Linked DNA regions of Homo sapiens. The protein of the gene in region 1 interacts with the protein of each later gene in a pairwise test. Each region holds a gene or a part of one and is shown on either strand. Other genes may lie near its edges.

What was found.
Region 2: the proteins of PYGB (region 1) and HCN1 interact in binary tests that used the Homo sapiens proteins (3 or more experiments, as listed by UniProt).
Region 3: the proteins of PYGB (region 1) and PPP1R3B interact in binary tests that used the Homo sapiens proteins (3 or more experiments, as listed by UniProt).

The regions. Positions count from the first base shown.
Region 1 is NC_000020.11:25,242,810-25,252,947, reverse strand, and holds the start of PYGB (glycogen phosphorylase, brain form), read right to left. Parts: upstream 4,864-10,138; 5' UTR 4,770-4,863; coding exon 4,527-4,769; intron 1-4,526. UniProt on the Homo sapiens protein: Glycogen phosphorylase that regulates glycogen mobilization. Phosphorylase is an important allosteric enzyme in carbohydrate metabolism. Enzymes from different sources differ in their regulatory mechanisms and in their natural substrates.
Region 2 is NC_000005.10:45,691,446-45,702,263, forward strand, and holds the start of HCN1 (potassium/sodium hyperpolarization-activated cyclic nucleotide-gated channel 1), read right to left. Parts: upstream 4,936-10,818; 5' UTR 4,649-4,935; coding exon 4,224-4,648; intron 1-4,223. UniProt on the Homo sapiens protein: Hyperpolarization-activated ion channel that are permeable to sodium and potassium ions. Displays lower selectivity for K(+) over Na(+) ions.
Region 3 is NC_000008.11:9,140,659-9,147,658, forward strand, and holds part of PPP1R3B (protein phosphatase 1 regulatory subunit 3B), read right to left. Parts: intron 4,853-7,000; exon of another isoform or gene 4,593-4,852; intron 1,141-4,592; exon of another isoform or gene 1,011-1,140; 5' UTR 994-1,010; coding exon 136-993; 3' UTR 1-135. UniProt on the Homo sapiens protein: Acts as a glycogen-targeting subunit for phosphatase PP1. Facilitates interaction of the PP1 with enzymes of the glycogen metabolism and regulates its activity.

The DNA.
Region 1 (10,138 bases):
TCAGGGCAGAGGCTGGCTGCCAGGGGAACCAGCTCTAATTAGAGGGTTGGAAGTTTCAGGCCCACCCCTCCCGCCAGCCCCAACCTCCAGTGAAGGGAGAGGGGCTAAAGGCTGAGCTCATCACCAATGGCCAATAATCACACTAGGTAACTGCGGCCTCCATAAAATCCCCAACTGAAGGGGATGGAAGAGCTTCCTTCCAGTTCAGTGAATCCTGGAGGTGCTGGGACAGTGGCACCTGCAGAGGGAATGGAAGCCCCTGCACCCTCCCTCAGACCTGCCCTCTGCATATCTTCTATCTGGCTGTTCCTGGGTTGTATTCCTTGTAAGTAATTGGTAAACGCAAGTGAAGTGTTTCCCTGAGTTTCATGAGCCATTCTGGCAAATCATCAAACCTGAGGAGGCTGTCGGTCAGAGGTCAGAAGGGAGGTCCTGATGTGCAACTGACATCTGGGGTGGAGAAGTCTTGTGGGACTGAGCCTTTAGCCTGTGGGATCCGAGGCTACATCTAGGTAGACAGCATCAGAACGGAACTGAATTGTAAGATGCTCAGTCAGTGTGGGAAACACCACCCCCCGACCCCCCCAGAGGGACATCCACGTTACTATCTAGGCACAACAGCCAAGTTGACACATAAAACCAGCCACCACAGCCTGCAAGGGCAGAGGCCAGGCTGTCTTCTGCAGAAAATGAAGGCACACACTGTAGGCTTCTCCATCTGCTAAAATGACAGCTGAGGCCTACCTTCCAAGTGGCTAGCTGTCAGCAACACAAAACAGCACCCACCATCAGCTACTGGTCAGAGAAAATGACTTTGAGCGATCTGCTGTCAGGGAAGCCTGCCCAGGAGATGCAAGCTCAACTTCACACATAAAAGTGGAAATACATCAGAAAAATTGGGAGTGTTAGGATTCCGGAGGCTGGTACCACAACTGACTAATTAAAACAAATCCCAGAAGTGGGGATCACAGAGCAGAAGGGTCTGCAAAACACTTCTCTAGATCATCTTCTTTAACTCCTGGGTCCAGCCAAACCAAAAGATTAATCGTATTTCATTGTGTTTATCTCATTAGGAATATTTAGGACAGCAGTGTGGGCCCCAAGGTAGAGCTGCTTTTCCTTAATCTGTGTTGTAGTCATGCCAGGAGCTTATGGGAAGAGTCTCAAAAACTGATTGTTACATCCACTGCAGGGGTGCTGCAGGTCAGTGGCTCAGCACATCGACAACACAGCTTCACAAAGGCCCACAGAATAAACCGTGCAACTGTCCTTTCAGGATGTTATAGAAGGGATCCCGTGACTCTCATAACTGGGCATGGGCTGCTTTCACTGCCAGGATCCTGGTCTGTGTTTTGTGTCCTGACCCTCACTGTCCCACCCCAACCCTCACTCTGAGGCCTTCTAATGTGAACCTTTTGTGCTGTATCTAGCATAAGCATCCTCAAATTCTCTCTGGATAGAGATGGAATGTCAATTCAATATGAAATAGAAACATTTTAACTCTAACATTTCAGAATGGCAACAGACTTCGGAAACATCACCAGCTTGATTCCCCTCATTTTAAAGATGAGAAAACTGAGGCCAATAATGGCAAAGAAATCCGCCCAAGCCCACAGTTGCACAGACCGAATGGAAAGGCCAGGATGAAAAGGAGCGTGGAATCACGCACACCCTTTCTTCTCCATGCAGCGCAATCCCAGGCTCTGCAGCTTCAGGTTGGACTCTCCTTGCCACCTTGCCACCACTTCAGAGAATCCATTAAATGTCTTCATGACCAACCGCCACCTCTTGCCAAGCACAAAGCTCTCCATGTTAGCCAGATGTTTTGACGTGCTGATTTGCCAAGCATGGCAAAGCTTGACAAATCTTCCTCTGAACACCCCAACTTCTACTCTTTCGCTATGTACCACAAATAAAGTGCTAAGAGTTATGAAACAATAGGTTCAGTATAATGTTATTTTATGTATTAAAAACAAGTTTCTGCCAATACGGAAAAAACAATGTAGAACACAAAATATTTACAGCACAAAGTGGGCGATAGAAGTGGGTTACAGGATTACAGTTAATTTTTTTCCTTCTGGCTTATCTATATTTTCTAATTTTTCCTCCAGTAATAATTTTTCCTTCAGGACTTGCATAATTTAAAAAAAGACAAAAATAACAATAAAAGCGTTCTATTTAGGAGCTCTAGAGTGTCACATTACCACAGTCTGCAGTGTGCCGGTGAATGTCTGAGGTCATTTCTGGCTGAGGGGGAGGCACAGCAGTTATTTTCTTGGGAGCACACCTCCTCTCATTGGCTCTGGTGGGACTGGTTGCTGGTCCATCACCAGCAAGCATGTAACTTTTCCAAAGAAAGGATTGCAAGCTTATTTTCATCATGAATTAGCGAAAGAAGCAGTTAAATCCCAATTTTCCATGTCCTTCCTATTCAGAATAGGCACACAGCTTATTTACACACTGTGAGATCTAAAAGTTTACAACTTTACGACTTACAGACTGTGCGGTTTAAGAGAAAGGTTTCCACCCAGAGCCACCACACGTAGACAATCAAAAGAGATCTCACGGAGGATCAAAAAACCTGTTTTGTTGCAGGGACTATCTTGTTCATGAAGGTCATTTCCGTAATCCCTGAGCCCATCGCTGGCCTCTCCAGGATGTGATTATACATAAATACTCCAATGGGCACCCTAAGGTGTAGAGCTGAGTCCTGGTCCAGCTCCAAGGAAATGCCCTTGAATGTGAAGGCAGAGCTATGTCCTTGCCATCCGCCACTTAGACAATAAAAATGATGTTGCGGGTCGGGTGCGTTGGCTCACGCCTGTAACTCCTGCACTTTGGGAGGCCGAGGCGGGCGGATCACGAGGTCAGGAGTTTGAGACCAGCCTGGCCAACATGGTGAAACCCCGTCTCTACTAAAGATACAAAAAATTAGCCGGGCGTGGTGGTAGGCGCCTGTAATCCCAGCTACTTGGGAGGCTAAGGCAGGAGAATTGCTTGAACCCGGGAGGCGGAGGTTGCACTGAGCCGAGATCGCGCCACTGCACTCTAGCTTCACGCTACAGGGCAAGACTCAGAATTAAAAAAAAAAAAAAAATGGTGCTGTGCATCAGAACTCTCCCAACAGCAGGGAATTCTGGGGGAGCCACTGCTTCTTGGCTGCTTTTCCTGGCAAAGTCATCCCAAGCCCTTGTTATAACCTGTTTTGGCCATTCGTTGCCACTTCTATGTTTTGCATACCAAATATGAAGAGCCCCAGTTGGTATTCTAACAAATCTGTCCCTTTTACCATCTCCATTTTAGAAAAAAGAATGTCCCAGAATAAGTTTGGAAAAGCAGTCAATCTCTTAGCAATTACCGTATTAAACATATCTTAATGCCCTACAAAAATATTCTAAAATACCATCCATAAAGCAAGTGCTCACTGCCTAGATGTACACTGCAAGTAAAATCTTTGCCAAGTGGCTTCAGGTCTGGAAGTGTGTCTTTTCCTCACCAGTTCTCCCTCTACGTTAGTGTAGTAGAAAGACAATTCTCCATGGTCAAGAGTTTAAAAGCAAACGACAACAACAAAAAACTGGCAACAGGGGGCTGTGCAAGACTACCATGTACCTATCAAACTGAAAACTACCATCCTATCCATTGACCTGCAAAGCTGTTTATCAGTGAAAAAGTTACAAATGTTTACGAATGAAACAGAAAATCTAAAAAACTGTATGTGCATTATACTTTTTAAAAATGTGTATGTATATTTAGGAATACCAAAAACACAGCAAGAACACAGGCCCATAGTAAACATGGTTAAGAGTAACGGGGACAATCAGTGACTTTGTTTCACTACTCAAACAAATTTTTGCAAGATATAAAAAGTAACAATTAGTAAGATGATCTCTGTCAACTTCAACCCAAGCAAATTTCTCCAAGGGAGGTGTGGGAACCTCTAAGACAGAGCCTTCTTCGAGGGCTCCATCTCCATCTCTGAGCTTCGTACCCCTCCCTGCGTGAAGCAGGCATCTTCAGTGATTTTCTTCTAAGCAGCGTACACAAAAAAAAGTCTCACAATTCCCTGCAGATTACCGAGCTCACCCCATTCCAACCCACAAGGCTGCCCAGGCCTGGTTCCAGTCCCATTTTCTCCCACAGGCTGCTGCAGGAAAACAAAGAGTGGCTGGAGGCAGGGGCGGGGAGCACCGGCTCTGCAGCCAGCGCGGAAGCGCACGGCCAGAAAGAGACCGGGAACGTCCGCCAGGCTCCCGGGCTCAGCATCATCTGCGGGGGACGGCGGACCCCGCCAGGCGCGGGCTCCCAGTGGGGCGGACCCGTGGCCGCGGCCCTGCGCAGGGGACGCCCGGGCCCCGCCGACTGCGGCTTCCAGGCGACTCCCCAGTCGGCTGTGCCTGGCCGCCGGCCGGCTAGGGGCGCAGGTAACGCCCGACGGGCCGCCCCGCAGAGACCCCCGCTGGCGCGGCTCCGGGACCGGCGCCCTCTCAGCGGGCACGGGCGCACAGGGCGGGGCAGCGCCTCACCTTGGGGTCGCGCTCGTAGTAGTGCTGCTGCGTGCGGATCCAGCGGCCCACGAGGTGGTCGCGCACCGTGTGCGCCAGCGCGAAGAAGTAGTCGCGGGGCGTGGCCACATTGCGGTCCTTGACCAGCGTGAAGTGCAAGTGCCGGTTGAAGCTCTTCCGCACCTCGGCCACGTCGCCTAGCCCCGCCAGGCCGCGCACGCTGATCTGCTTCCGCTTCTCGCTGTCCGTCAGCGGCTTCGCCATCGCGCCGGCGGAGGCGGAGGAAAAGAGATGGAGGAGGAAAGCGGCGGCACACGCGAACGCCGGGATGGTGCAGCTGCTCTGGCGCCGCTGCTCTGGCGCCCGGCACTGCGGCTCTGCGGGCGGGATGGACCGCGCCTGCGCGCCGCGCCGGGGCGGGGCCTCGGGGGGCGGGGCGGGGCCTCGGGAGGGCGGGGCGGGCGTCCAGGCTCATAGCTGAGATCTCTGGTGTAGTCCGAGGCGGCAGCGACCTGTCCACGCCACCTGAGCGTGGTGTTTGCCCCCTCGTTGGGCAAGCCCGGCAGAAAGTGGGAGCGACTGGAGGGGGCAAGGGACCCGGGGCCTCGGAGCGTGCCGTCGTGGCCGCTCCTGCCAGCCCGGGGACGGTGCGGGAAGGGGGCCCTGCCCTCCGGCCCTCGGGTTCCTGGGACCGGCCCTCCCGCCCTGCACCGGGTCACCAGGTGCCCCGCGGGAGCGCGCTGGGCTCGGGCTGTGGCCGAGACCTGGTACACGTTCGGGGAAACTGATTACAGCTTGAAAGGCATCCACCAACGCCTGCTGGGCCCGGTCTTCTCTGTCCGGGGCAGGGCGGCTCTGAAAATACCAGCTATTTGCTTGCCACTCCAGGCCGATGACAGACGTGGAGAAAACCAGCTGCCAGCGAGCTGGAGACGCCCGTTCCCGAGGGCGCGAGGCAGCCACAGCCAAATGCCACCACGACCCCGCCTCGGAGGGACCGCAGCCCCCTAGCCCTCGGAGAAACCCTGTTCCCGAAACCACCTGGCAGACGCTGTCCGCTTTGAGATTACAGCAGGGAGAAGGAAACATGCCCGTCTGGCCGGGGAGCTCAGCCACTAACCGAGACTTAGCCTCTGTCATCCCAATCCAGGCTGCAGCTCCAGATAGGGGGCGTCTGCACACAGCTTCCCACACTTGGCCCCGCGGAACACAGTCCTGCTGGCCTCAGCCTGTGGGAACCCTGCTTCATGTAAAGGTCACCTAAACTCTGCCTTCCCTCAACCCCTTCAAACTCTGCCTTTCCCTTCGTTCTTGGGAGGCGCTCCCTCATTGCAGTGGGTCAGTACACCCGATTTTGTGGACCACAGGTTTGCTCCTGGTGGTCTTGGGCTGAAGGGGCTGCAAAGGTTACTGAATTTCGTGGAGGTAAAAATTGCCCGCAGGAAATGTCATGAAAGTCCAGGTGCAGTAGGTTTCCTGGTGTGATGCTTCAAAGTTATCTTCTTACCTGGAGCCCCTTCCAGCTGCAGACTTCAGAGGTCGGAGGTTAATCAATCTGGAATGACCCCACAGCCCACCCAGCTCCAGCTCGGGATTCACTCCTGCACTATGTCCTAGGGATTCTGGAGCCAACAAGATCGAACTTCGGGCACAGATGGCAGGGCTGTGGGGTCGAGCTTGGCTGCAAGCTCCGAACACTGATGCAATCTCTCTGAGGGTGATCTGGCAATTCAGAAGTCATAAAAATGATAGTGCCCTATGACCACTTCTACCACTCTGGGGAATTGAGTTCAAGGAAAGCTTAAGAAGACAAAAAGCAAGTTATGCAAATATGTTATCTGCTGTGGTGTGGTAAAGTTTAATCCCCCAGCTGTGGTGCACACCTGGCAAAGAATGGAGGCGCTGACACTTATTGATCATTACTTGCAGTGTACACGTATTAACTCCTGATCCCTGCAAATAGCCTGCTATTACCCCCGCTTGACAATGGAGAAGGTGAGCCACAGAGAAGTTAACTCTTCCCTAAGCCCACACAGCTAATAAGGGAAACAGCCAAGGTTCACCCCAGCCAAGCCCTGCTCCACTGCACAAGCCCAGAAAAATGTATCTGTGCTCAAAGTTAATATCATAAACCATTGTGCTGCTAAAAGGAATGACTGTTTTAATAGCTAGCTAGGAAGGTGTGATTGATGACACAATACTGATAAATGAAACACAAAAATAAGGATGTAATGCAGAAATGACAGTAATGATTTGAATATTACTTTCATTTAGTCAATTTAAATTTAAATTAAATAACCACATGTGGCTAGGGACTACTGTGTTAGAAACACAGGTGTATATCCAAACCTAAACACTGGTTATTTCTGAATGGAAGAATTATCAGGGGGGTTATCTTATTTTCTCCATACATTTTGTATTTCCTGTTTTTTCCACAATATTTCTTTTGTAAGTGGAGTAAGTTTTAGTAAGAAAAACTAGAGGCCACAGACTTCACTAATGGATGCTGATTTAAGGCCTATATATTCTCTTACTGGATTGACTTTTAATTCTTTGTTACTCTGGTTAAATAAATTTTAAGTCCTTTCTTTCATAGCTACACTTTATTAAATTTTCCATGATCCTGACAAAAATTCTTTGACCAAACTCTAGTCAGGCTTCTGAGCCTTGTAGGGCCATCATACACTTCCCTGTGACATCTGTTTTAGCAATCCCTGCTTTGTCAATTTAGCAGGATTCCCTGCCCCTGATGTCTGATCCCCCTTGGTGACATCTGATCAGGCTCCCCATGCTCCACCATCCCCCATGCTGTCCAATCACCCTGGCCTGCCTTCAACAGGAATCCTATGAGGTGGTTTAGACACAATCACCTGGACCCCTGAAGTGTCCTCTTAGTAACTGTCCATCCACTGACCCCTCCCCCAGTCCTTGGCTATAAATGCCCACTTGCCCATGCTGTTTTCGGAGTTGAGCCCAATCTCTCTCCCCTGCTGCAAGATCCCGTTGCAGTGGTCCCTGTACCTATCATGATGGTTGTGAATAAAGTCTGGTACCATGCTTTAACAAATGCTATTGATTATTTTTTTTCTTTAACAGTTATCTTACCCAGATGTCATTTCCTCTTCCTGGGAGCTGCCATGGTCCTTCCCCTCTCCTGCAGCACTTAGTCCAATACTGAATCTTCATGATGTGACTCTTCATAATGCGCATGGTTGACGCAGGAAGGAGCCCTCTCACCATCATGTCTCCTCACCTCCTCTGGCCGCTAATATTGCTGAAGTGGCTAAATGAGTCCCAGTATTAATTATCTCAGCCATTTTCAGGTAATTTATTTATTTATTTATTATTAATGTTTTTGAGATGGAGTCTTGCTCTGTCACCCAGGCTGGAGTGCAGTGGTGCAATCTCCGCTCACTGCAACCTCCGCCTCCTGGGTTCAAGCAATTCTCCTGCCTCAGCCTCCCATGTAGCTGGGATTATAGGCACTCACTACCATGCCCAGCTAATTTTTGTATTTTTAGTGGAGACAGGATTTCACCATGTTTCTGGGCTGGTCTTTAACTCCTGACCTCAGGTGATCCGCCCGCCTCAGCCCCCCAAAGTGCTGGGATTACAGGCGTAAGCCACCGCACCTGGCCATCATTTTCAAATAAATAATTTTTAGATAGTTTTAAGTGTTGTAAAGAAAAGCAGGTTGAGCTGTTAGTTACAGGAGGTGATATCTCAGCTGAGACTAAAAAAAAAAAATGAAAGAATGGACCAGGTGCAGTGGCTCACACCTGTAATCTCAGCACTTTGGGAGGCCAGGGTGGGTGGATCACTTGAAGTCACGAGTTCAAGACCGGCCTGGCCAACATGATGAAACCCCGTCTCTACCAAAAATACAAAAGTTAGCTGGGCGTGGTGGCGCATGCCTGTAATCCCAGCACTTGGGAGTCTGAGGTATGAGAATCGCTTGAACCCGGAGGTGGAGGTTGCAGTGAGCCGAGATTGCAGTCTGGGCGACAGGGCAAGACTCCATCTAAAAAAAAAAAAAGGCATGAATGAATCTGGGGGAATAGCAAATGCAAAGGTCCTGAGGTGGGCATCCACTTGGACAGTTCACAAAAGAGGCATCTGAGGGGCATTGGGATACACCACCCCAAAATATGCCTCTTCGCATGTGGATTATTTTGAATTAAAGGCCATTAAGAACCAGCAGACCACAGGAAAGGCTCTAAAAACCATTTTCATTTTGTAAAAAAAATTCACATTTATTATAAAGGAAATTTCCACGTCTCCCTCTTCCATGCAAGGAAGAGGATATCTTGTAACAACTCTTATCAGTGGAAGAAAGTACTGACTTAAGTCTGCATAACAAACCTTCCTAAACAACCCTTGTTTACCATACTTTTCCTGGGCACCTTCTGCTGAGGTTTGAATATACCCTCCAAAACTCATGTTGAAATTTAATTGCCATTGTATAAGAGGTAGGACTGTTCAGAGGTGATTAGGCCATGAGGCCTCCACCCTCAAGGATAGATTAATGCCATTGTGGGAGTGGGTTGTTATAAAAATGAGTTTGACCCTCTCTTGTTCTGTCTCTTTCACCCTCTCTTGTACTTCCACCCTCCTTCCATGGGACAATGTAGCATAAAGGCCCTCACCAGATGCCAATGCCATGCTCTTGGACTTCCCAGTCTTCAGAACCATGAGCCAGATAAGCCACTTTTCTTTATAAATTACACAGTCTGTGGCATTCTGTTACAGCAGCACAAATAGACCAAGACACCTTCCCACTACATGCCTCCCCTGCCCAGAAGCTCCAGGCCTTTTCCTTTATGTCAGCCTAAGATGATAGATGAACCCAAGTCCTGACCACACTTTGGGTTATTCATTGCCAGGTACTGCCACATGTAAGTGCAATGCACATGCCAATAAACTTGTTTTTTTCTTGCCTGATTGAATTGTCTTTGGCTGGTGTAATTAGAGGCCCCCTAGCTGGAGACCCTAACATGGGCTGGGGAAAAGATTTTTTTCCTTCTGTAAATAACCAAGAGTTGGATTCAGCTTCATCTTCCATTTTAGCAACAAAACTGCCAGGCTTCAGAACAGGCAAAATGGAAAGAAATTGGGCTATGCTTTTATTTTATATAAAGCTGAAAAGCAGTTTTGCCCTTCTAAGAGAAAGGATTGTTCTGGCAGCCTGGATCAGAGCAGTGATCAGGCCAGAGCATCTGCTAACCTCAGCATCAGGGAATCCCTGTTTTAGACTGTCCTCTACGTCTCTGTCTTCTCCTTTTGGGAGGTAATTTTTAAAAAATCACTAAGAAGGGATGGATGCTGGTTCTGGTTTCGTTACTGTTGTAGGGAGCTATTCTGTGTTGCTGGAGATAATACATTACCTTTAAAGTTCTTTTATCTTTTTGTTTTTGAGACAGGGTTTCATGGTGTTGCCCAGGCTGGAATGCCATGGTGTGATCACGGCTCACTGCAGCCTCGATCTCCCAGGCTCAGGTTATCCTCCCACCCCAGCCTCCCAAGTAGTTGGAACTACAGGTGCATGCCACCACGCCCAGCTAATTTTTGTATTTATTATAGAGATGAGCTTTCTCTATGTTGCCTAGGCTGGTCTTGAACTCATAGGCTCAAGC
Region 2 (10,818 bases), on another chromosome or scaffold:
GAAAAAGTAACTAAATAAATTCACACGTTTAAATCTTTGAAGAAATTTCATGTTGTGTCTAACAGTTGCTAGAGCCACTAAGAAAAATGTAATTGAACTTAAAGCACAAAAAGGTTCACCTAACATAGAAAAAAAATAAATTCTTATGGTTAATTTTGGCTATGTTGATATGAAAAGCAAATAAAATAAGCATTGCTGGCAGATACAGAGTGTGTTCAGCACAAAGATAACATAACAGTAGGCTAATTCGTCTTTAAACCCTAGAAGGTTGAATTGTTTTCTTGTGAGAAGCTCCTGGAAGCAAATGTTCTCTCTATTATGAACTGTATAATATGGGTGAAGCCTCCCTTCCCTAATGAACACATCAGTGATCTCTGATATCAGTACAGTTGTGGCTGCAATTCAAAGCAGAGATGGAAGAACGGATGTGACGGTATCTTCAGGAAGTAACTCCCATCTCTAGAGTCCTTGAGTACTTACAACAAAATAAGCTTTTCACACACTCATACTAATGATGAAAAGAAATTGAAAAAAATAAGAAGTCAAGATACAAAACTGCCTCCGTTATGAGGAGCAAGATGTTGGCTGGCAATACATATGGAAAGGAGCATTCTTTTTAAAAGTCCCTTTGTGTAAGCATGATGGAACAAAATAATGACAGAATCCCTAAAATGGCAAATAGTCTGGTGATAAATTCTTCCAAGATAAATTGCTTGCATAATAAAAATCATCCACAAAAGTATTCTAAATATTCTTTCAACCTATTTAAATGATTATATCATAACTATCAATTGGCTATGGAAGCACAATGCTTGCCAAGCATCACTTTTAAACCTTAGTAAAATTCTAGCTAATTAATATAAAATCACCATGAATTTTTAAAAATCATATTTAACCTCCAAATTAAATGTGTCTATGTGTTGTTCACATGAAATTCAATAAGACTAAGACCATACTGTCACTACAGAAAAATCGAGCTACATTTGTTTTTAAGTAACTATCCCTATTTTCCCTAGTTTGGGTGCTTATATACCACAGCATAAACAAAAACATGAGCTTGTTGTGTTTACTAAATTCTGTAGCTTCCACCCAGTTATTTCAAACAGTACCTATACTATTGGACTGCTTTTTACTCTCTGAAGGTTTCTATTGTCATCCTCTGCTGAGGAAAAAGGTAAATACAGCAACTCTGCCCTACTTACGCCAGGGGTAGAGAAAACTACCTGCCAGACACAGCAATAGCACTCTTGGGCTCTGGTGGGGAAAAGAGGCACTAGCTAGCTCTCTGAAAGTCTCAGTGGGAGCACAGCCTTGTCCCTTGAGGTAAGTAAAGTAGAAAGCTATCAGTCTTAAAAATTATCGTGAGCAGGGAAACTAGAAACAGTGTTAAAGTCACGACATGCCCTGGAGTAAGAACATAGTAAACTTCTCTGGCCATGTAAAGGTTTATTAAAAGTGTCAAGGAAAAGAATCCTCTGGATATCTTCATTTGTAATAACTCCCCACTCTTCATAGAAATTACTCTTAAGTGTCATTCACTCAGTTGTTAAATGATTAATGAACTTAAGTTTGACATTTTAGGAATTGTAGTAAAGCACCTCCCTGAAATAATCCTTCAGGAAAGGGCCTAAAGTAAAGGCTAGATCATGACCGCAAAAATTTCTAGTATCTGTTGAAAATTACTCACACATTCCTTTCCCTGTAGAAAAAAACTACCGCTAGAATTTTGTCTTTCCTATTTTTGTTCTTTCATTACATTATCTTGACGTTATAGATTTTAGAAAATCTTATATTGGTTTTGAGATCATACAAAAAAATGAAACAATAAGATGTAAATATATTCTGAATGTAAACAAGTACATGATTATTTTTGCAGTTTGTTTTAGAACACCAGTGTATATTGTAATTATGTTTTAAAATCTATTTTTTCAGATATCTTTCAGTTTAAAAAGATCTAAATAATGATAATTGCTTAATTTGTGCCTGCCATTTTCTTTTTTCCATTTATACAAGGGAAAAGTCAAATATTCCAAACTACTCCACACTGGAATTTAGAGTATTAGCTCAGTTTTTAATCATTTCCCATTTCTTTGAAATGGATAATAAAATTAAATCATCACCTGATTTCAATTTGTTCCTTTGTTCAGTAACAATGTTTTTATTAAAGAGATATTTTGTCTCAGAAGATTTCCTTGGGAAAATAAGGAGAATCCTGTAATTCCATTCATTCAAAAGACTTTCGCATGCTATTCTAATTCCTGAAAAGTGGCCCTATGTTTTTATTTAGCAAGTGGGAAAAAGTTTAATTACTTGATGTGTGGTATCATTTTGATAAGGGATAGTCCTTTTCACATTGCTGAAAAAATAAAAGCATCATATGTAATCATTTTATTGAGTGAAATTAAATGTTAAAAGTTCAGCATTTTTGCATGTTAATATTGAACCTGGTACATTTCTGGAAATACCACATTTATTTTTGCTATTAAGACTGGAGACTTTTTTCATGTAAGTTATTTTCATTTAAAAATTTTAAAATGAGGTGAAATATATTTCCATTGGGGACTGAGGAAAAGATAATATTCTATACTTGATTCCCACCTTTAAAATTCTAAAGAACATGACAACCTTATACATCTTAGAACAGGGTCATTTATAAGTTTGCTTCCCTATCTTCCTACTGGAGGAAACAGGTTTGATTATTTATTACATCTTTTTAATATGAACATTTTCTTTTTTTTAAAATTTTTAATGAACGTTCTTTCAATCAAACTCTTAATGTTCTCTAGACTATAAACGTCATTAGGTTTTATAAGTTCTCCTTTGGACTTTGCTGTGTGTTTTTACAAATAAGTACCTTAAAATTATACACTTTCTAAAATCCATTCACTCTTTGCATAGATCACGGAGGCTACTGATTTCTGAGACGATAAATATCTCAAAGAAGGCAAAGACCGTCACTCTGAGCCTTTGTGTGGCGGGACTGTGGATTTTTCACAGCTAATGTCATTCAGAACTGTGGACAGCTCCCGTTAAGGCATGTAGTTGGTGACAATTTCCCTTAGTTTCTAAACTAACTCCAAGGCTGCTTTACATTGCTATATTTATCCTATAAAGAATACTTAGTATATGCACATACTCCTTTAGTTGATTCTTCTTTTCTTTTCGAACGAGTTCGGCCAAATAAATAAATATCACCCTGAGTTATTAGGAGTTACTAGTTCTGGATTTTAAAATGGGAAGTCCAGCCTTGTTCAGGAGCTAAGATAATCGTGCACACGCTAATAAGAGGATCTACTACACGACCTTCATTTGACAATCTCTAAATATGCTTATCACCGAACGAATACTTGAGCGACAAGTAAGATCAGAAAACGTCTTAATTTTAATTCTCCAAAGCGGAGTTTTCCTGCTGACAGCTTTCCTGTCCTTCTTCCCGAGCTGGAGGACGTGAAAAAGATTTTTGAAATAGACTTGCAGTCAAGGTCAAGAAAGGGTGCCGCTCTATTTCAGAAAGGGGCTCTGTCAACGCCCCCTCTCTCTGTTTCAGGAACTAGAGGCTTCCTGCCACGCTCCTGCCCTGCCTGGAAGCGCCTGGCTTTGGTGAGACCTCACGTCAGGGACTATCCAAGTGCAAATTGCCCTTCTTTTGCCTGCCGGCCGCTGTTTCTGAGTAAACACAGCGAGGATAACCAGCGCCTATAAAGAAAAACAGACTAAACACACTCCCCAGGGGCGAGCGCGGCAGGAACTGCTCGGGCTTGTGAATCGCTGTCTCCGGTTACCCAGTCTTCTTCTGAGCCCCAGAAGCCTCCTTTTCCCTCCTGGTTGAGACCACACTTGAGGGAGCCGCGCGAGGAAGGGTGGCTTCCCGCTTCCTCACGCTCTCGTCTCTGAAGTAAAAGTTTCCCTTGTACAACTTCGCCTCCTCCCAGGAGGGTGACCGTGGCCTCCATCCTTCCCTGATCTGTCCCCGAAGTTCAGGAGGCCAAGGAGGAGAGCCCGTCCGGGATTCCCGGGCAACAGGAGCACATCCTCCGAGCCCCTCCTGGGTGGAAACTACCCGGAGGCGCCGAGTGGAGCCTGCTTAGCCCGAGCCGACGCCGCCGGCAGCGCCACCCCCCGCCCGCCCTCCTAGTCCCCGGGACGCCCCCCACCCAAGGGCGGGGAAGCGCGTTTCAGGGCGCGCCTGAAGGGAGGGTGGGGCGGCGACCGGGAGCCCTCACCTGAAATCACTGTAAGGGTGGATAATCCAGAAGCCTGCAGTTTTAACCCTTTCCTGCTCCTTTTCCACCGCCTTCTGGCTCCCAAACATGCGGAGGGAGAATTTGTTGACCCCGGGCTGCAGCATGGAGGTGAACTGCCTCTGCATGAAGCCGTACTGCCGCCGGGGCCCCTCGGCGTCTTCGAAGCCCCCCGCCGGCTCCTCGCCGCCGCCGCCGCCGCCGCCACCGCCGCCACCGCCGTCCACCTTGAAGCACACGGAGTTGCCGTGCTCCTTCGCGCCGGCCCCGCCGCCCCCCGGCGGGGTGCCCAGGCGCTTCTCGGCCGCGGCCGGCCCCGCGCCCGTCGCGGACGCCTTGGCGGGGAAGACGCTGTTGCCATCGTCCCGGCTGTTAGACGAAGAGTTGGGCTTGCCGCCTCCTTCCATGCCCGGAGGACGCGGCCGGCGACGGCGCGGGCTCCAGACTCGCCGGCCGCCCGGCGCCGGAGACACGTAGCCGAGAGGGTAGGGGCCCGAGCCGGCTGCCGGCGAGCCCAGCTGCCCGTCGCGGCGGCGGCGGCGGCGGCGGCGGCTGCTGCTTCCCGACCGCGCCGCTGCTAGCTGCGCGCCTGGCTCCCGCCGCCGCCGCTGCCCTTAGTGGCTGCGGTCCGGGCTCCGGTGCGGCTGGTGCTGAAGCTGAGGCTGCCGGAGCTAGGCGAGGCTCAGCTCGGCTCAGCCCTCGCGCCCCAGCGCCTCCCCTCGGCTGCCCTCTGTTGGCCAGAAAGGGTCTCTCCCCGTCCGCTCTCCACACATGCTCGTTACTCTTGCTCTACTTCTGCCCAGCGTGACATTGAACTCAAGAGCCCTCGGAGGAGACATTCATTGGTACACGTGGAGAAGGACTCGGTGTATGTTTGCATGAAAGACAGGGGAGAGAGGAGAGAGAGCAAGACTGAACTAGCGAGTGTGTGTTGGTCCAAAAGAAACAAACATCTTAAACTCATGAAGACATTGTCTGAACGCCTGTTTGAATAACGTTACAGATGGAGAAAAGGGGACAAGCTGACTATGCATGCCAACAATTCAAGTGCAAAACCAAATGTCCAAAAGAAAGTAAAGTTTGACAATGGAAAATAAATGTCCAAAGTATCAGGGAAAGTGTGCCTGTGCGTGCGCGTGCGCGTGTGTACTAGAAAGAGAGGCAGAGGGCAAAAGCTACCAGGTCTGTGTAATCCTAGGTAACCAGCTGCTTGGGGCTTTTCAGATTAAGGTTCTGCACCTGGGGACAGACAACTGACCTCCTTACACTTATCCTTGTTAATTCTTGCAGAGTTTTTTAAACAGAGGACGGGATTTCTTTCTTTCCAAGGCCATTCGTATCAATACACGTGCAAGCAGATCTATCAGCCACCAATATTGAAAGAAAAGTGTGTGAGGGAGGCCTCGCCTGAGCTGACCTATCTTTTTAGATAAGTTACATAATCAATAAAACACATTAAGGGATGTGTGTGTCGGTCAGTGTTTAACGACACCACGCTAGGAAGTTAAGACGTCTTGGAATCTCTCGTCAGAATGTCATTACCATTTCAGAAGGGGGGAACACTCTTAAGGGAAACTTACAAGTGTAGTACTGATGCTGAGGAAAGCATTATCCGTTTCCTCTTATTCCCTCTGCGTCTCTGAAACCCACTGGATTAGCTAAAGGAAGCAAAATGTGCTGCCAAACCCACCAGTCACTCAGCAGGGGAGCCCCGGCGTCTGAAGAGCTTCAAGACTCCCGAATGTCCCAAAACATCTGTTTCAGATACAAGCATTGCCTCCCTGCCCATAGCCTCTTCAAAGGAAATCTTGCCCTGCCAAGAGTCCCAGATCCCCTGGGTTCCTGTCAGCTGTAGCCACATTTTATGGAGAAGGGGCAGGCACTCAAGGAGGGAATGTGTATGTCAGGCTGGCAACTAGTGAGCTATCATGAGGAAAAAAAAAATGAGTGGGGCTAATCAAGGTGTTTTTCTGAAAAATTAAACAGTGATGAAGCCAATTAACAATGAAGGAAGCAAGGATAAAGACAAAGGAAGACAATTGGATGCCTTCCTGAGGGGTTAACAGAGGCTGAGAAAGGAAGCAGAGAACAGAGAAAATAGCAGAGGGAAGCAGAAACGAGCCATTAGGCCTAACTCAGTTGCAATTCTGTAAGATTTCCTTACCATTCTCCTTACCATAGCCTGTGCTAAATCTCCTTTTTTCACGGAGCTATGTCCTGACTCAGGCACCATCTGTTTTCAACTAATCATATACCAGAACCCTAAGAATAAATATGGATGGCCAAATTTTAATGGTAAGAGATAGGAAAAATATGAAAATATAGAGCTCTGATCTGTCAAAATAGAGACCTTTCTCTACTTTGGAAAGCCAAGAGGTCAGATAAGGATACCAGGTGCTGAGGGCAGAAGGAAGCCACGGGAATGGATAAAAACAAACATTGCCCAAAGCACAGTTCTGCCTAAGAAAGACCCGATTACTCAGGCAGCTTTTCTTTATTAGACTAAAGATGTTTCCCTACTTTTCTCCCATTCTGCATGCTTCCTCAGTCCCTCTATTTTCAGTCATGAGTGTGACAATGTATATTTTAACATAAATTTTAAATTTTATAATAATGTAAAAATATACCATCTAAAATGTTATGCTGAGTTTAAGTAAGTTTTGCTTTTCTTTTAGCCAATCTCTCTGTTTGTTCTATTGCAACTTAATCTTACTCATGACCAGGCAGTTATTTTAGTAAAAGTTTTTCTGAGTTTCAAGGTTTGTACTAAACTGATATGACAGAATCACTGAAAAACAAGATCTCAAAATAGAACTAAGAAATGTCTTAAAAAGATCACAAGTCATTGGTTGTTCCAAGTATAGCTTCTAGGCCATATTTTATTTATTCAAAATCTCAAAAAATACATTTTCTTAAAAATTTGAGAATGTGTATATTATATCAATGCATTAACTTAAAGTTGTCAGCAATATAAAAAGTCATGTTTATTTACTTTTCAGAGTGTTGATTTAAAGTTGTTTAGAATATGAAATTTAAGTTTTCTTTGGAGGAAGAATGAACTCTCAAGAAGATTGAGACAAAGTGAAAGCAATAAAAGAATGGAATCAGTGATAGAAGAAGAGACAGAGAGAATCTTGAAACTTCAGAATAATCTCTTCTTATCTTGTCTTTGTATCGGTTTGTTGATAAACTATCTCAAGCTAAAATCTAGCGAGCTAAATGCGAGTGTTTATTTCAAAGACATCTTAGAAATAAGACTACCATCATGTTGACTCTGTGTCATTAGATGTTCATGATGTCAAAATGCTTAGTATTTTACAGGAATCTGATTTCTGAGGACTCATTAGAGAATATCAATTATGAATTAATTTCAGGAGAACGTCTCATCAGTAGTTGTAATGGGTGCTATTCAATATATACAAGAATTGTGCATCTTCTGAAATGTTCCCTGTCTCCTTTAATACTCTGCTTAAGATCAAATTGCAAGGCAGCAGCAGAAGATTAATATGCATCTAAAATAAAATCTCCATGCAGCAGATACTAGCACACGTGAAATGAAAGAAAAAAGATAGATCGGTGACTTGAAGTTTGATGGTTTATTGGAAAATCTCAGTGAAACTTAAAGATTTAAGGGATAAGACATTTTGACCCTCTTAGTAGGACAGAGTAATATGTTACAAACATATTACACGTGTAAGGAAATAAAATAAGAACATCTGTTGAAGAAGGCAGTGGTAAGGAACAGTGAAAAAAAAACTTCCTCATTGACAACCTCACAGTCTTTCTGTGTCTTGTGTACAGGCAAATCTGATTATCTATCTGGAAAGCCACATCAACATCATGCTTAATATGAAACATTAAAGCTGTTAAAGTCAGAACAATACGCTCATATCCACCATTTCTGCAATGCATGGTATTTTTAATTGATAATATTGTCTCCTGAAAACCCCAAATAATCAACTGGATAATCATCATAACTAATAATAGAAGTTGGGAAGTTGGTATCAACTTTTGGTTACTTTAGTAAACATGCAAAAATTAACATTTTTCCTAAGCATCAGCAATAACCATTAAGGCAATATAGAGAACAATGATTTTTTTCACAATTGCAACTAAAAATGAAAACTACACAATAATAAATTTAACAAGAAATGTCTGAGATCCATAGTTTAAGATACTTTATTTTGATAAAAGACATAAAAAGCATTTAAATAAATTAGCTATATACTTTGTCCATAAAGTCTCAATATTATAAATATGGTGCTCCTTCCAAAATTGATTTTAAGTTTCAAACAAAATTTGGTGATTCCATGGACACAGGGAGGGAAACATTACACAACAGGGCCTGTTGAGGGTTGGAAGGCAAGGGGAGGGAGAGCATTAGGACAAATACTTAATGCATGAGGGGCTTAAAACCTAGATGACAGGTTGATAGGTGCAGCAAACCACCATGGCACATGTGTACCTACGTAACAACCTGAACCTTCTGCACATGTATCCCAGAACTTAAAGTAAAACTTAAAAAAAAGAAAAAAAAGAAAGCAAACCAAACAACTCACCAGCAATATACAGTCATTCCTGGTAACCAATAAAGCAACTTACTTACTTTAAAACGAACAACAAAAAAAAGTGTTATTAGTTTTCTCCATGCGGACAAAAGCAACAAAATGTTTTTAAAGTTTAACTGGATTAATAAATCATTTTTAACAGTTCATAAGCTATGGCTTAAAAATGAAAACAATGAAAAAATGTCCAAAGTATTAGAATTGCTTAGGGTAGCACTGAGCAGAGAAAGAGACAGATAAGGCAATGCAAAAGAGTCAAAACCAGGCCGGGTGCAGTGGCTCACGCCTGTAAATCCCAGCACTTTGGGAGGCTGAGGCAGGCAGATCACTTGAGGTCAGGAGTTCAAGACCGCCTGGCCAACATGGTGAAACCCCGTCTCTACTAAAAATACAAAAAAATGAGCCATGCGTGGTGGCATGCTCCTGTAATCCCAGCTACTCGGGGGGCTGAGGCATGAGAATAGTTTAAACCCAGTAGGCTGAGGTTGCAGTGAGCCAAGATCGCGTCACTGCATTCCAACCTGGGTGACAGAGTGAGACCCTGTCTCTAAATAAATAAATAAATACCAGAAACACACTTTAGTTTTAATCATAGCTCCAAATTGTCATTCCACATCAATGAGCAAAGGATATGTTGTATAGCAAATGGTCCTAGGATGGTTAACTATTCCAGGGAAAAGGAAGGTAGAATATAATATCATGTCATTTCCTAAAGTGAATTTAAGATGATTTAGTATTATAATGTAAATACTAAAAATCATGATAGGTAAATGTTTATAAAAGCAAACACTGGAAAAGACTATGCCACTTTAAAAGATTGATAGATATTTACTTTTCAGAATTTTTTCCATTGACCTGCCTATATAAAGACTAACAATACTATACAATTTTAATAGTTTTAATATATGGTGGCCCAATCCCAACATCTGTATTTCTCTTCATGTGTCTGCATACATACATATTAAACATGATTTTTTTTCATATACATGTAGAATTATTTTTGACAAATTTTGGCACTTGTCTTTGTAGTTAAGGCATTTCGTTTGCATTGCACATAGAGACATTTTAGGAAGAACTATCATCTTTCAATATTGAGTCTCTATTCAAAAGCAAAATAGATATTTTTTCCCTATTTCTTCCTTCTTGTATCAGCGCTAAATGATACATATTATTGTCAAACATTTGAAGAATACAAGATTTAAAAAGAAAAACCTTAAAGTAGTCCATGAACTCATCTTCATTTTGCTGGCACATGCCTATCTTTCTTGACTCTAACATGCATATATTGATTTCTATTATTTTACATAACTAATCTCTTAATATATTTATTGTACCAGCATTTGGATTTAAGGTTTCAAAGTATATCTTGAAGATATTAGCATGAGATAATTTATAGCATCCTTTTCTTTAATGCCTGCATTTGTTTTGTAGAATGGATATACCATAATTTACTTAACATCTCCTTTACTAATGCACATTTGAGGTTTTATTCTTTTGTGCTAAAACAAACTGTGTTACAATTAATATCCTTATTATATCTCTGTGTAGTTATCAATATAGATATGGAGAAAAAACATTGGAGGTAAAGATAATTACTCAATTCATGGGTAAATTTGCTTTTGGTAGTAACTATCAAATTGCCCTCCAAAGACTGTAGGAATATATATTTCTTCTAAGACCACATGAGATTACCTGTTTCATACGCTTGCCCCAAAATCAGATATTAACAACTTTTTCCAATTTAAAATGAGCAAGAAAAAAATGATAGGCCATTGGAGTTTTAATTTCATTTTCACAATTATTAATAAGAATAAACAGATTTCCCATGTTCATTGAGTTTCTTATAGTTATTCATTTGTGAGTTATCTACTTTTACTATATGATCATATATGATACATATGTATGTTTTATTTTCAATATATTTTACATATAAAACTTTCACCATGCATGTAATTTTAGAGTAATGAATTCCTTGCAAAGAATGAAAAGAAGCCATATATAAAAGACTGATA
Region 3 (7,000 bases), on another chromosome or scaffold:
GGATCCTTTTATTTTCCCAAACGGGGCCTCATGGAAGTTCCACGTTGCTCCTCCCTGGCCTTCCATCTCCACTGCACAGTGAGCAGAGCTAGGCTTGTCTGTGGCAGCTCCGCCACGCCCTGTCACCTGCAGTCACTAGTAGTAGGGCCCTAGCTTTTCATATCCTAAGTAACTTGGCCACTCTGGAAACAGACCATAGGAACACCGAGGGCTTCCGAACTGGTCAAAGGATATTCCCAAATCCGGTCCACTGTGGGGCTTGGTCATTCCCTGGGTAGATTTTAACTCAGCCCGGATGATCCTATAGTTCTTGCCTCTGTTGCTGTCCCAGTACGTCTGTCCATTGCACTCGTAGTACACAGCAAACTCCATTCTTTCATAAGACTGAATCTTCTCGGGCAAGCTGATGTCGAAGGAGAACGTGTCCCTGTCTGAACCGGCATAAGTGTCCTTCACGTACTGACAAGGAAAGTCTGTGTAGCTCTTCCAGGTGTCGAACGTCATCCTTATTTTCACGGTCTTCTCAAATGCGAGGTTCTGAACCTTCACAGTGCCTGCAATGGCCTTGTCCTTGAGCACACAGTTCTCAAGGCAGACGTGGTCGGCCTGAAGTCGATTTCTAAAGTCTAAGTAATCTGCAGAGGGCTGGGAAAAATCCAGAACAAAGCTCTCGCTCTCTGCTGTCGTCAAGCTCACAATGTTGTCTAGGAGCTCGGTGATGTTGAATGGCATATCTAGCGGGTCATCGAATTCCGAGAACACTTTGACCATTGTCAGGGCCAGCCCCTGGTTGTCTGCGAAGGACACCCGCTTTTTCACCTTCTTCTCCTGGACAGCCGGGGCCACCATTCCACTGGCTTCATTCTTGCTGCTCAGCTGAATACAAGGCCTCAGTGGTTTGCTGGGCTTTGGTGAGATCTTAAAGGCAAACCTCTCTTGGCGCAAGGAAGGAGCCATGCAGTTGTATCTGTACTCGATGTCCACAGCCATCATGGGGCTAGATGAACAGGCTAGAACCGTGGAAAGGGAAGAGAAGAAAGAAAACAGTGGAGCAATCAGATCAGACAGATGTGTAAAGGCATCATTCCAGCAGGGACTGGCAAACAATATTTCCTTTTATCTATGCCCACCTGGCTACAGGTCAGGATTAACTCTGGTGTGGTCCAGCACAACATGCGTTTGAGAGAAGATTATGTTGTGGGGGGACGAGATGCGGTGGGGGGTGGGGGGTGCTTCAAGGTTAAAACAAACAAAAGAGTATGAAACCCACTAGTTTTAAAACTAAATGCACAGGTTTTTTGGTCAGCATTTCTTGGGGCCTTCCGTTGGCAAATGTGCCACAGAGGATAATCAAAAGGGCATATATACTGTTTTAAAATTTCCCAAATCTATTTGACTAAAAGGGTGTCTTCCACAGATAGCTGTCCTGAGGGACACTATTTATTTACGTATTTTTAGAGATAGGGTGTTGCTCTGTGCCCAGGCTGGAGCGCAGTGGCGTGAGCACAGCTCACTGCAGCCTCGACCTCCCAGGCTCAAATGATCCTCCCACCTCAGCCTCCCAAGAAAGTGGGACCACAGGCGCAAGTCACCATGCTTGGCTAATTTTAAAAAATTTTTGTAGAGACAGGACTCGCTATGTTGCCCAGGCTGGTCTCACACTCCTGGCTCAATCCATCCTCCTGCCTTGACCTCCCAAGGTGCTAGGATTACAGGTGTGAGCCTCTCTGCCTCTCTTTATTAATTGAGAAGTAAAAATTGTATATTCTTATGGTGTACAACAGGTTTCCATATATGTATACATTGTGGAATGGCTAAATCGAGCTATTTAACATGCATTATATCACACTTTTTTTGCAGTGAGAACACTTAAAATCCACTCTCAGCAATTTTCAAATATATAACATATCATTACCAAGTATAGGCACCATATTGTACATCAGATCTCTTGAATTTATTCCTCCCGTCTACCTGAAATTTTGTATCCTTTGGCCAAAGGATACCTCTCCAGTCCCTCTACCCTCACTTTCTGGTAGCCACCCCTGTACTCTCTGTTTCTATGAGTTTGACTTTTTCAGATTCCACATATAAGTGAGATCATGCTATATTTGTCACTCTGTGCCTGACTTATTCACTTAACATCCTCCAGGTTCATCCCCGTTGGCACAAATGACAGGATTTCCTTCTTTCTTCAGGTAGAATGGTATTCCACTGTGTTTATATACCATGTTTTCTTTATTCACTCATCCAATGATGGGCACTTAGGTTGATTCCGTATCTTGGCTTAGTGAATAACGCTGCAATGAACATAAGAGTACAGATAACTCTCCGATACACTGACTTCAATTCCTTTGGATATATGTCCTGCAGTGGGATTGCCGGGTCATATAGTAGTTCTAGTTGTGGTTTTTTGAGGAGCCTCCCTACTATTTTCCATAATGGCTGTACTAATTTACATTCCCACCAGCAGGAGACAAGGGTTCCCTTTTCTCCACGTCTTTGCCAATACTTATTTTCTTTGGTCTTCTTGAAAATAGCCATCCTAACGGGTGTGACGTGACATCTCATTGTGGCTTTATATTTGCTATAATCTGATAAAAAGAAATGGATTCATCCCACAAATAGGGATTGGGTGTTTCCTATATGGCAGGCATCAAGCAAGATACTGGGATTCAATAGTGAAGATAGACACAAACCTGCTTTCATTAAGTTTATGGTAGGTTTTTAAATGTCAGGATACCATTCTTTTAAAAAGAACCAGCAGGCCTGGGCGGTGGCTCACGCCTGTAATCCCAACACTTTGGGAGGCTGGGCAGGTGGTTCATCTGAGGTCAGGAGTTTGAGACCAGCCTGACCAATATGGTGAAACCCCATCTCTACTAAAATTACAAAAATTAGCTGGGCATGGTGGCATGCACCTGTAGTCCCAGCTGCTCTGTAGGCTGAGACAGCAGAATTGCTTGAACCTGGGAGGCGGAGGTTGCAGTGTGCAGAGATCACACACTCCAGCCTGGGCCACAGAGCAAGACTCTGTCTCAAAAAAAATAAAAATAAATAAAATAAAAACAACCAGCAATTTCGTATTCTTAAGCCTTTAACATAGGTGAATATTTGTTTTTTCCACAAGTAAAAAATTGGCTCTATAAGAATAAAAAGCAAAGAGAATCATGCTGAAAGAGGATAAATCTGAGTTAACAAAAACTATATTTTCTTTAAGTAAAAACGATAAGTAAAACAAAAAAAGACTACAGACAAACTGTGAAAATATTTTACAATAAGCATAGCAGCAGAGCTAATACCTTAATATGTAAAGTGTTCTTACAAAGCAATAATAAAGTCAAATATTCCACATAGAAAAATAAGCAAAGAACATGAATAGAAAATTCATGAAAAAAAATTTTAAAGTGGCCTATAAATATGCAAAATGTTCAACCTTATTATTAATTTAAGAAATTTAGATGAAAAACAATGTCTGTTTTTTATTTATTGAATTAGGAAAAAAATTGAAAAGATAATACAAGTTTTTCTTTTTTTTTTTTTTTTGTTTGAGACTGGGTCTTACTCTGTCACCTAGGCTGGAGTGAAGTGGTATGAACATGGCTTATGGCAGCCTCCACCTCCTGGGCTCAAGCGGTCCTCCCACCTCAGCCTCCCGAGTAGCTAGGACCACAGGCATGAGCCACCATGTCCGGCTAATTTTTAAAAAATATTTTTTTGTAGAGACGAGGTCTCACTATGTTGCTCAGACCAGTCTTGAATTCCTGGACTCAAGCAATCCTCCCACCTCAGCCTCCCAAAATGCTGGGATTTATAGGTATGAGCCACTGTGCCCAGCCAATGCAAACATTTTCATTAGTTAAAATTGGTACAAACTTTCTAATTTTTTAATCATTTTTTATCCTAATATCACATAGAGACATTTATCCTAGGTAAAGAATTAAAAACACACAGAGATTAAGGTACTAAAATGTTCAATGCCACATTATAGGGGGAAAAAGATGACAAAATAACCTAGGTGACCATTAACAGGTACCTGGTTAAATTAAATGTACCACATCCATGTGATGTACTTTTATTTTTACTGTTGTTATTTTTTCCTTTTTTGAGACAGAGTTTCACTCGTGTCACCCAGGCTGGAGTGCAATGGCACAATCTCGGTTCACTGCAACCTCCACCTCCCAGGTTCAAGTGATTCTCCTGCCTTAGCCTTTCGAGTAGCTGGGATTACAGGAGTCTGCCACCACGCCCAGCTAATTTTTGTATTTTTAGTAGAGACAGGGTTTCACCATGTTGGCCAAGCTGGTCTCAAACTCCTGACCTCAGGTGATCCACCCGCCTCGGCCTCCCAAAGTGCTGGGATTGCAGGCGGGGAGCCATCATGGCCAGCCCATGTGATGTAATTTTATATCATCATTAAAGCCATTATTTTAAAAAAGATTCAAATGAAATGAAAAAAAAATATTATATATTTATATTTATGTCTACATATGTATATATATATAGAGAGAGAGAAGATAAAATTGTACATAGAAACTAGACTTGTGGGGAAAAATGCTGTTGTCACTTCAACGACATGAGTTTGAACTTTGTAGGTCCACGTATGCTCAGATTCTCTTCTGCCTCTGCCGCCCTGAGACAGCAAGACCAACCCCTTCTCCTCCTCTTCCTCCTCCTCAGCCTACTCAACGTGAAGAGGATGAGAATGAAGACCTTTATGATGACCCGCATCCACTTAATGAATAGTAAATATATTTTCTCTTTCCTATGATTTTCTTAACATTTTCTTTCCTTTAGTTTACTTTACTATAAGAATACGGTATATGTTACAAATAAAATACAAAATATGTGTTAATCGACTGTTGATGTTATTGGTAAGACTCTGGTCAACAGTAAGCTGTTAGAAGTGAAGGTTTTGGGGAGTCAAAAGTTATATGTGGATTTTTGACTGTGTGGGGGCTAGGCTCCCCTAGACTCCATGTTGTCCAAGGATCAACTGTATTATGTAAATGCAGAGAAAAAAGACTAGAGATATATATTTAAAATCAGAATACCTAGGTGACAAGATTTCAGGAATTTCTGGTATCCTGGTTTGTATTATATCTTCTAAAATAATATTGCTTCTATCATCAGAACAAAATGAACCTAAAAAAAATCCTCAAATATTTTATGATATGCCAAAAACCCATCCCATCACTACTGCCTCACTAAAGCTGAGCACTTTTTTTTTATAAGACAGGATCTTGCTGTGTTGCCCAGGCTGGAGTGCAGTGGTGCAATCATAGCTCACTGGAACCTCAAACTCCTGGGCCCAAGCAATCCTCCCGCCTCAGCCTCCAAAGTAGCTGGAACTACAGGTGTGCACCTCCATGCCCAGCTAATTTTTCAATTTTTATAGAGGCAGGGTTTCACCATGTTGCCCAGGTTGGTCTCAAACTCCTGAGCTCAAGCAATCCTCCCGCTTCAGCCTCCCAAAATCTGAGCACTTTTTATCATTCTAATTACCATGGCAAATTTATATTTTGATTTGACAGTTTCAATGGACTAAATTAAGGAAATGAGTGCCGAAACTAGGATTAAAATCTCAAGTCTGAGAATCACAGAACACAGGATCTGGATGAGTCCCCAAACCTATCTCCCCTCAACCTATCTTACCCCTCCTTATGGCACAGGTGTAGGTGTGTGATGACGTGTTGGGGAGCTCACTCTCAAGCAGCCATGGCCACCCCTGAGAAGTGACAGGCAACATGCCAAGTGTCTTCTGTAAAGAGCTGGGACCACTGGTTCAGTTCTATAAATAACCTCTCATTTTCACCTTCTGATTGTGATTAACCAAACATGTAAAGAAAAAAGGTGAACGGACGAACACATATCAGATTTGACCCCATTTTTCCAAAAGTACAGAACTTCCCTGGGATGCAAGAAACCCTTACAGATGGCCAGTCAGAGAAATACACATATTCGGAAACAAATAAAACAATAACTTATGGCCAGAATGCAGGTGCTTAAACATTCATTTTAAAGGATATCTGTCTCACTGTTTCCCCTTTAAGAAAATCAATCTAGTGAAAATTTTAAGGGCAAATTTGCTTTCAATGATCTGTTCTTATAGCCACGTAACTGTTCTGGAAAGGAAAGTTCTGACTGAATTAGGCAAGGTAGGTTTGCAGAGGTTCCACGGATTGACTAACAGGTTCAATGTAAAAAAAAAATCCTATACTTACAAAATATCTAAATTTTAGTTACTCTTGTCCTTTGCAAAACTGTGCTGGAATTATACCCTCAGCTCTAACTGTAACACAGGTAGTGTTTTTGTTTTGTCTTATTTTTAATTTTTTTTTTTTCGAGATGGAGTCTTGCTCTGTTGCCCAGGCTGGAGTGCCGTGGCGCAATCTCAGCTCACTGCAACCTCTGCCATCCGGGTTCAAGCGATTCTCCTGCCTCAGCCTCCCAAGTAGCTGGGACTACTCGTGCCACCACCCCTGGGATTACAGGCGTGCACCACCACCCCCAGCTAATTTTTGTATTTTTAGTAGAGACGGGGTTTCACCATGTCAGGCTGGTCTCGAACTCCTGACCTCATGATCTGCTCCCCTCAGCCTCCCACAGTGCTGGGATTATAGGCATGAGCCACCGTGCCCAGCCTTGTTTTTAAACAAGTACGAAAACCAAACAAGAGGCTATATCTGGCATCCCAGTGCCCCCCACTCTACCCATCCTGAAAAATCTGGGTGTGAACTGAGGGAGGAAGGGTTCCTCTTCACAGCTTCCTCCTCAACTGAGTCAGCACAGGTTATCTGCAAGTTCTCTTTGCACTTCCAAGAAGCCTGCAAACCAGCCTCCTACGTGCTTTTTCTGCATGTTAGGAAAAGCCTTGGAAACTCTCAAGATATTGTGGAAACAGCCAAAGCAAAAGGATCAATCAAAGAATCTACACACAGCCCACTAGAGCCAATGTCCCAAGTTCTAATCCCGCAGGCTGAAGAGACTTAGCTGAAGACCT